Regions from separate parts of the Homo sapiens genome. Here regions 1 and 2 are each reported to be linked to region 3. Evidence: microRNA targets listed by miRTarBase, many of them from high-throughput screens and not tested one by one. Region 3 holds a microRNA gene; each other region holds the end of a gene's coding sequence.

Region 1 (3,129 bases), not on the chromosome of region 3:
TTGTAGGAATTCTAGCAATAACCACTCATTGAAGTAAAAATCGAATACAGGGCACAGCTTTGTAGAGACAAAATAATCCATGGTTAAGCAAATGTTAGTGTATAGGATGAGCTTCACAAAAACAAAGGCCATTTTCAGCACACTTTTAGTCAGTAGTTAATCAAGGGAAGGCTGCTAATGAGGTAGTTCAATGTCATTTCCCCGACTTAATGGTAGTAGAAAATGAAAGATTAAGGCTATTTAAGCCAACAGGAAAACCATGAATCTTTAAGCTATTTCTGGGTCCTTGTGAAGAATTTGCAAAGTCCCTGATGCTCTCCCTTTACGCACATGGAATATTTTCACCAACACAAAAAACAGTGCTGATTCTGACGCTGCAAGCACTGCACAATTCTCAATTATTTCCCATCGGTGACGCTTTCACCAAAGGCCATGCTACGTTGTTCTGAACCCCTTTCAGGACATCACTATCTCCTCTCTTATCTTTGCCTAGAAATATGATGTTTGGGCAAAGAAGGAAAAGGGATGAGTAAGAAACAGGGATGAGTGGGAGAGAGACAGCAGGAAACAGGGGTGGGAAACTGGACACTGCAGCTTTCTCACAACCCCTGACAGGGTGCGTCATGGGATGCTCGTTATTTTACTTAAGAGTACAATGAGATTCCAGAACATCAGCCAAATCTCTAGTCTAACCTGGGCATAAAATTGCATGCTAAAATAAAATACATTTTTCTCCAAATAATTTATTAAAAATTACACTTGATATTCATGTGGAAATTAAGACCAAACTGCAATGTTTTCCATTTCCAATGTACAAAAAGTTTTGTTCCTGAGAATGGCAAATTCTAAATGATAAGTAAAATAAATATGGCATTTATTTAAGTAGACTGAGCCACAGGTTAATCTTAAGTGGTGTTTGGTTGATGGGAGAGAAAATCCTCCATCAGAATTGTTGTAAGAACTTTCCAATGTGCTTGACATGCATCCGGGAGCAGTGACTTACACCTGTAATCCCAGCACTTTGGGAGGCCGAAGCAGGTGGATCACCTGAGGTCAGGAGTTTGAGACCAGCCTGGCCAACATGGTGAAACTCTATCTCTACTAAAAATACAACAATTACCTGGGCATGGTGGCATGTGCCTGTAATCCCAGCTACTTGGGAGGCTGAGGCAGAGGAGAATCGCTGGAACCCAGAAGGCGGAGGTTGCAGTGAGCCAGGATCCCACCACTGCACTCCAGTCTGGGCGACAGAGTGAGACTCCATCTCAAAAAAACAAAAAAAACAAAGGAATCTTAGTTTAACAGTTTTGGGTTACAGCTCCAGGGATGGGGGTGGGAATGATTGACTATGCATTTGATATGTGTCTTATTAATCATAAGGTTCTTTCCCCCATAGCAAAGTACATATAAATGCAAAGCTTTAGTGCTTAGCTGACTGTAATAGGACATCTTCATAAAAGGAATAAACTTAACACCTCAGCCAATAAGCCAGAGAATCTTACGCTGCACAAGTGTGCAGTTTTAATGTGTTGCTCAGGCTATAGTATTATTTTTTAAGTTTTTGGTTTTCTTTTATACCATGCATTTATTTCCCTCTGAATTAATCACAGGTATTTTCTTTAACATAAGCTATTTTAAGTATAAACTTTATTCCTGAATATCTTCAGATACTTTCTGCTAGTTCAAATAAACTCACACAGACATTAATCCAATTTGAATAACTACATATGAATGAGGCTACAGTATTATTCAATCCAGAGTGTGTCACTTCCGTTCACGAAGGCTTGCTATGCATAAATATAAAAATATTTTATCTTCTGATGCTTTCATTTTTGAAGCACTCCCTTCAAAGGATGTAAAAAAATATTAAATAAAAGAGCTTTCAAAGTGTTCTGTTAGGCTATGATTTGAGGGGGAGATGAATGGAAATGGATATTGATAGTTATTTAACTGGAGATCTTTGTGGTGATATGTGAAAGTATAAACTAACTCCAACAAACTCGTTTTTTCCTGAAACTTTTGGTGTAAAATTATATATTATTATTATTTTGAGACAGGGTCTTGCTCTGTTGCCCAGGCCAGGCTGGAGTGCAGTGGCATGACCTCGGCTCACTGTACCCTTGACCTCCTGGGCTCAAGCGATTCTCCCATCTCAGCCCACTCCCAAGTATCTGGGACTACAGGCATGTGCCACCACTCTTGGCTAATTTTCATATTTTTTCACGGAGATAGGGTTTCACCATGTTGCCCAGGCTGGTCTCGAACTCTTGGGCCCAAGCGAACTGCCCACCTTGGCCTCCCGAAGTGCTGGGATTAACAGGTGTGAGCCATTGCACCCAGCCTGTTATTATTTTGAAAGGTTATTCTGCTTTTACTGAAATGCAACAAACAGTTATTGAGCACCTGCTATATTATTATATAGTCCATTCCTACTAGGCTACCGCAGCCATTGATGATCTTCCTTTGTGTGTGTGTGTGTGTGTGTGTGTGTGTGTGTGTGTGTGTGAAGCTGTTTGTATATTTTCGGTTTTTCGGTTAGTTTGCTTGTGAAGCAGCTTGGAGAAGTCTCATCTACTTTTTATCAGTTGGTTGGTTTTAGAAAGCATCTCAGAAAGTGGACCCAGAAATCGCAGATCTGCCATTAGTATTTATTCTTTGAAGATACTTTGGAGATTCATTTTCTTGAGTGGCACTGCCATGCTCATTCAGTGAAAACTTGTGGGGTATAGAAATGGAATGGAGAGTTTCAAACAGCTTTGCTGAAACTGTACTTTGGGCTCCAGACTTCACTGTCCTTAGGCATTGAAACCATCACCTGGTTTGCATTCTTCATGACTGAGGTTAACTTAAAACAAAAATGGTAGGAAAGCTTTCCTATGCTTCGGGTAAGAGACAAATTTGCTTTTGTAGAATTGGTGGCTGAGAAAGGCAGACAGGGCCTGATTAAAGAAGACATTTGTCACCACTAGCCACCAAGTTAAGTTGTGGAACCCAAAGGTGACGGCCATGGAAACGTAGATCATCAGCTCTGCTAAGTAGTTAGGGGAAGAAACATATTCAAACCAGTCTCCAAATGGGATCCTGTGGTTACAGTGAATGACCACTCCTGAAAGGGTAAAAGAAGATCTC
Region 2 (3,129 bases), not on the chromosome of region 3:
AATGGAACTAACAGAATGTCAAATTTTAAGAGTTCTTAAAAAGTAGAAGAAAAGATGAAAAGGGCATACATAGGTTGAAATGGATAAATATGAAACAGCTGTGGCATAAAAGCCAGAAAAAGGAGAGAGGCTGAGAAAGTAGGTGTAGCTCAGCAATGTCTAAAGCCATAGAGAGGTCCAGGAAAATTCATATGAAATGAAGTCACTATTAGACTAGGAAATTAGGAGTTAGTATTTTGTATTGCTGGGTCAAAACATGGGAACATTTTTTAAGTGCTTGATACATGTTTCCAAATGTTGTCTCAAAGCAGTTTTCAGCTTAAGTGCACTCTCACCAGCAATGGGCATTTTTACTATCCCAAGTGTCATACCTTTGGATACTATATAAATAGTCTGTATTTCCTGAAATGATTAAATTATCTTATCCCCCCGCCATTTATCATTTCAGCTCATGGAAGAGAATGAATCTCTTAAACAGGAACTGGCTAAAGCTAAAATGGCTCTTGCAGAGGCTCACTTGGAAAAAGATGCTCTTCTTCATCATATAAAGAAGATGACAGTTGAATAGCAGGAGTGGCAGTCAAAACTGAAATTATAGCTCTGGAGTAGGAAGGTTATATTTATAATGTGGATGTTACCAGTTAGGGGAAGACTTTTATTTTCATGAAAAGACAATAAAACAAAATGGAATGTGATGAAGTGGTGACTATTTCAAAGCCAGTTTAGAAAGTATTAGTACGGGCATTACAATCTTTTGGTTGTTTTGTGTTTTGGGGCTTAACCCTCTTTTAAGCTGTTGTGATCTAGGGAAGTCAACACATAGTGTAAAATAATTACATGCCTAATGAAAAGAAGATGTCATTTCCTAATTTTGATATCTCATTTTCGGCATTTTTTAAAATGTAAAAGGAAAACCTCTTGTGTTCACACAGATTGCTGAATTGATTTCTCCATATTTGTTAATAATTTACTATTATTTACAAAGATTCAAATGCTTTTATGACTAATGTAAAATGAAAAGAGGCTTACATTTTAAATGTTATTAAAATTATGTACTTAAATCTATAATTATTTAATTATTGTAAAAAGTCCAAGCAGATCAATAAACTATATAATTAATGGGTTTGGAAAATCATCACCCTACTGAACTTACAAAATATCTTGAAAATGTGAAAAATATCATTTTAAATAATGGGTACATTGTATAAGTGGAAGCTATAATTTTCAACAAAAAGATGGTACAAATGTAAAAGTAAAAAGCACAAACTATACAAAAGCAAAATCTATGGCCAAGTGATTTAAAAGCATTACTTGTACATTCCTTTAAACATTTGTTGTTAGAAGCAAAAGAGTAATTTATCCTGCTAAATTTGGCACCATTTGTAATTATAAAAATTTTGATTAATACTATTTATATTAATTTCTTTACCTTCATTTTTTCTCCTTAAGGAGTTGATTGTTTTTGGAAATGTTTTTTTCCTTGCACATAAGACAGTTTCATACCATTCTTATAGAATCATATTAGGTGGGTGTTTGCACATACTAAATTTATAAAGCTAGTTTTGATTAAAGCTCTATGTGAGATATATATACATACACAAGTCTTCTATAATAAGAGTCGTTGGTGAATTTTGAATTCTATTTTGTTAGGAATTAAGGTTGAAATCAACATGAAAGAATCTCAATCATGCATTATAAAATAAAAGTACATGGGTGTTAAGAAACAAGAGACTTTTAAAGATTTAAAATATATTTCTGATAGAATTTAACTAAGTGGTGTGTATTTTAAAATTCACATTCTTAAACATAAATCTATCCAAGATAGAAAATGAAATAGCTGGACTACTCTTTCTTTAAGATACTTGAAAATTTTAAACCACATTGCAACACTTTATGGTGCTTTGCGTGTTTGGCATGACATACACAGTGGTCCTGGTATATAAGTGCTTGGGGGAAAATACATATTTTGTTTACATTAAATTTTGAAGTGATTTAGGCTTTATTGAAAACAATACTGGCCTTCCCTCCCCTTCTCTAACATCCATTTTCATTTACGTTATTTAAAATATACAGGCACTGTTTTGGGTACAGAGGATATAGCCAAGAGCAAATTGATAGTAGTTTACCTCAGAGTATTAAAAAAATCATAATAAGTCATGTTAATCTAAAACTATATAATAGCCTTAGATTAAATGTGCAGATGTCTAATTAAAGATTTAAAATGTATAGCGTATGTCCTTAGAACATTTGATTTTTAGGTATACATTCGGCAAAAACAGTCTGTTATGGAAAAGAAGGATTGATGGGACATTAACTTCTTCCGAGCTAACATTGTTTCTGAAGATTGACCTATTCTATATAAATTTAAATTTTTCTATGTTTTTCTTTTTTTTTTTGCGATGAGGTTTCGCTCTTGTTGCCCAGGCTGGAGTACAATGGTGTGATCTTAGCTCACCGCAACCTCCGCCTCGTGGGTTCAAATGATTCTCCTGTCTCAGCCTCCTGAGTAACTGGGGTTACAAGCGCCCACCACTACGCCCAGCTAATTTTTGGTATTTTTAGTAGACACAGGGTTTCACCATGTTGGCCAGGCTGGTCTTCAACTCCTAACCCCAGGTGATCCGCCCACCTCGGCCTCCCAAAGTGCTGGGATTACAGGCGTGAGCCACCGTACCCGGCCTCTATCGTATATTATAATTGCTTATTGTTATAGAAGCTGAATGTTTTACTTACTACTTTTAAATTTATTTGGTCTTCCCAAGGAAATCATACAAACGGTAGAGATTATGATAATCTGAGCATTCTGTGTGCTTAGTTTGATTTTTTTATTTATAAGCAGTACTATTTTTATAGATGTTTAAAATTCATAAAACACTGTATTCTGAGAGGTAGGTATTATTCAAATGTTAGAAATTTTTTTTAAAAAAATGCCCTGAGGCTTAGAAAGGACAAATGACTGAAATCACAATTAGTAATCTGGTCTTTAGACTTAAAGCCTAGTTATATGCTTTTATTATAGCTTAGTCATTAATTCACACATTTTCCCTTATCTTTTTTATCTTTTAAAGGTGACCATAAAACTTTAAATTGTGTGTGTACGTCTATGTATGAGGTATATGTTACCCTGTT
Region 3 (3,129 bases):
GGTGGGCATCTGTAATCCCAGCTACTCTGGAGACTGAAGCAGGAGAATCACTTGAACCCAGGAGGCAGAGGTTGTAGTGAGCTGAGATTGCACCACTGCACTCCAGCCTGGGCCACAGAGTGAGACTTCATCTAAAAAATAAAAATAAATAAATAAAAACTTTTTCCAAATAAACAAAAGCAGGTAATTCATTGCCAACTGAACTGAACTATAGTAAATTTTAAAGGAACTTCACATGAAAGGAAAATTATATAAGATGGAAATTTGGACCTCCATAAAGGAATGAAGAGTCCTGGAAGTGCTAAATATATGGGTAAATTTAAAGACTTTTTTTAAATTTTAAAATCTCTTTAAAAGATCACTGAACTTCCAGTTTCAGCCTCAACATGTGAAGAACCTGCAAGTTATCACTCCTCTCCTTAACAATAACAGTAATCTGACCAAACTGAAAATCAAAGACTGTTCTAGATCCATCAGAGATTGAGGTACCAGTTCAAACTGCCATCCCCAAAACTGGAGAGACAGGTGAATACAGAGAATCATAACCAAGATAACAGAAGATGCTTGGGCCATAAACTGGTAGAAACACTTCAATGGTAATGGATGAATTGCTTGAGGCTGAGTGTGGACTAGGGAGTCAAAAACTCCTCCCCAGTATTTTTTTTTTTTTTGAGACGGAGTCTCGCTGTGTCGCCCAGGCTGGAGTGCAGTAGCGCAATCTTGGCTCACTGCAAGTTCTGCCTCCTGAGTTCCACCATTCTCCTGCCTCAGCCTCCTGAGTAACTGGGACTACAGGCGCCCACCACCATGCCCAGCTAATTTTGTTGTTGTTTTATTTTTAGTAGAGACGGGGTTTCACCATGTTAGCCAGGATGGTCTCGATCTCCTGACCTTGTGATCCACCCGCCTCGGCCTCCCCCAGTGCTGGGATTACAGGCGTGAGCCCCCACACCCGGCCCCTCCCCAGTCTTAGTAGGGCCTTCCACTTTGGTAGGTTTTATCTCCCAGAATCCCATTTACGGTAAAGAGTCAAGAAAAATCTTGTGTTTTGGGCCAGGGGAAGGAGCATATAGTTAACACTACTGAGTTAAATACCAAAAATGGTTAAAATGGTAAATTTTATGTTTACAATAATTTAAAATTTTTAAAAAGAAATGAGCTATTAGACCATGAAAAGACATGGAGGAACCTTAAATGCATAATGCTAAGTGAAAGAAGCCAATCTGAAAAGGCTGCATACTGTATGAGTCTAATCATTTGACATTCTGGAAAGAGTAAAACAAAGCAGTGAAAAGATCACTAGTTGCCGTGGGTTCAGAGTATGGAGGAGAGTGGGGAGGGAGGGAAGGGTGAATAGGTAGAGTACGGGATTTTTAGGGCAGTGAAACTATTCTGAATGGTACCGCAGTGGTGGGTACATGTCATTATATGTTTGTCAAACCCATAGAATGTTCAATACAAGAGTGAACCCTAATGTAAACTATGGACTTTCATTAATAATAGTGTATTAATATAGGCTCATCAGCTGTAACAAATGTGCCACTCAATGCAAGATGTTAGTAATGGGGGCAGTGGGTGGGAGAGTTGTATACATGTGAGAGGTATGAGATAACCCTATTTTTTGTTCATTTTTCTGTAAACCTAAACTTGCTTTAAAAAGAAGTCTAAATAAAAAAGAAAAAAGAACTATACTTATTTTTTTTGAACTACCACGTAACTCTTAATTAGTAGTCTTTATTTCACAGCAAATAATTACCAAGTGGACCATAGCTATCTCTTCCCAATTGTCTATTTCACTTTAAGAGAGTCAATGAATGGCGCCAATAGAAGCTATGATTGTCTCATGAACAACCTTGTCTTATTGCTTCTTAAATGGTTATGTCCTTTGCCTATTCTATTTAAGACACCCTGTACCTTAAATAGAGTAGGCAAAGGACAGAAACATTTTAAGTTCTCTAACACAGCAGTCCCCACCCTTTTTGGCACCAGGGACTGGTTTAGTGGAAGACCATTTTTCTGCAGCAGGGATTAGGGGGCCAGTGTTGGAGGGGGATGGTTTCAGGATTAAACCATTTGACTTCAGATCATCAGGCATTAGATTCTCATAAGGAGTGCGTAACCTAGACCCCTCACATGTGCAGTTCACAATAGTCTTCACAGTCCTGTGAGACTCTAATGCTATTGCTGATCTCACAGGAGGTGGAGCTCAGGTGGTAATGCTTGCTCAACCGCCACTCATCTCCTGCTGTGCGGCCAGGTTCCTGACAGGCCATGTATTGCTACTGGCCTGCAGCCCAGGGGTTGGGGACCCCTACTCTAACATTCTGTGCATACCCTCATCATAGGGCCTTTGCACTGGCTTTTTCCTATGGCTGGAACAATCTACTCCAGATACCTGCAAGACTCACTTCTTCACTTCCTTTGTCTTTATTCAAAGGGCCTTCTCTAGAAGGCTTTCCCTAACCATCTTATTCCAAATTATAACCTTGTTCCTGGACCTGTTTTTTTTCTTCATAATACTCCTTAGGTTTTAATATTGGAAAACTTATTCATTTATTGTCTGTCTCTGTCAGACCTAACCTGATTTTTGTGTGACGATTTTGTATCCTGCAACTTTGCTGAATAACAGATTGGGTGGAATCTTTAGGATTTTTTTACATATAAAATCTTGTTGTCTGTGAACAGATAACTTTACCTCTTCCTTTCCAATTTGGATGCCATTTTAGGAAAAACTTTCAAACTGTGTTTTTCCTCTGCTCTCATACCACTACAACAACAGAAGACTTCTGTGACCAAATACGTGGGGATTTCTCCCCAACATTATGTGAGCAGTTCTGCAGCAGACACCAACTGGGTATCCTCCTAATCAGTTCTGACACTAGGTGCCTAGAGATAGTGTCAGATTCCACAGGTTGAGGACTCAGTCCCCAGGACTGCCTCCCACCCCTTGACCAGTCACAAGCCCCGGTCTCCAGAATTTCTTACCAACTGGCTTCAAGTTGTGGTTCCCATGACCCCCTCTTTGGGTTCAACTGAGTTCTGGAGTGGCTTACAGAACTCAGGGAAACACATTTGCCAGTTTATTATAAAGGATGTTACAAAGGATACAGATGAAGATGTCGAGGGAAA

The links. The annotated mature microRNA hsa-miR-3121-5p reads UCCUUUGCCUAUUCUAUUUAAG and lies in region 3 at 1,882-1,903, shown strand. An mRNA with a match to its seed (bases 2 to 7 or 8) in the 3' UTR can be bound and repressed. Matches are read on the target gene's strand: a 7mer-m8 pairs with bases 2 to 8, a 7mer-A1 pairs with bases 2 to 7 and ends in A, and an 8mer does both.
Region 1: miRTarBase lists SRD5A3 as a target of hsa-miR-3121-5p. Seed matches in the 3' UTR shown: 7mer-A1 at 2,460-2,466.
Region 2: miRTarBase lists BLTP3B as a target of hsa-miR-3121-5p. The part of its 3' UTR that is shown has no 7-base or 8-base seed match.

The regions. Positions count from the first base shown.
Region 1 is chr4:55,369,809-55,372,937 of GRCh38, reverse strand. It overlaps SRD5A3 (steroid 5 alpha-reductase 3), which reads right to left. Exons shown (of 5, transcript NM_024592.5): 5 at 1-3,106. The coding sequence ends at 2,847. The region is part of intron 3 of SRD5A3-AS1 (SRD5A3 antisense RNA 1); the gene reads left to right. Among named protein-coding and RNA genes, the nearest start is that of LINC02928, 6.4 kb to the left of the region's middle.
Region 2 is chr12:100,035,075-100,038,203 of GRCh38, reverse strand. It overlaps BLTP3B (bridge-like lipid transfer protein family member 3B), which reads left to right. Exons shown (of 21, transcript NM_015054.2): 21 at 449-1,132. The coding sequence ends at 568. Among named protein-coding and RNA genes, the nearest start is that of ANKS1B, 52 kb to the right of the region's middle.
Region 3 is chr1:180,437,132-180,440,260 of GRCh38, reverse strand. MIR3121 (microRNA 3121) reads left to right here and starts at 1,871; the gene lies at 1,871-1,947. The region is part of intron 3 of ACBD6 (acyl-CoA binding domain containing 6); the gene reads left to right.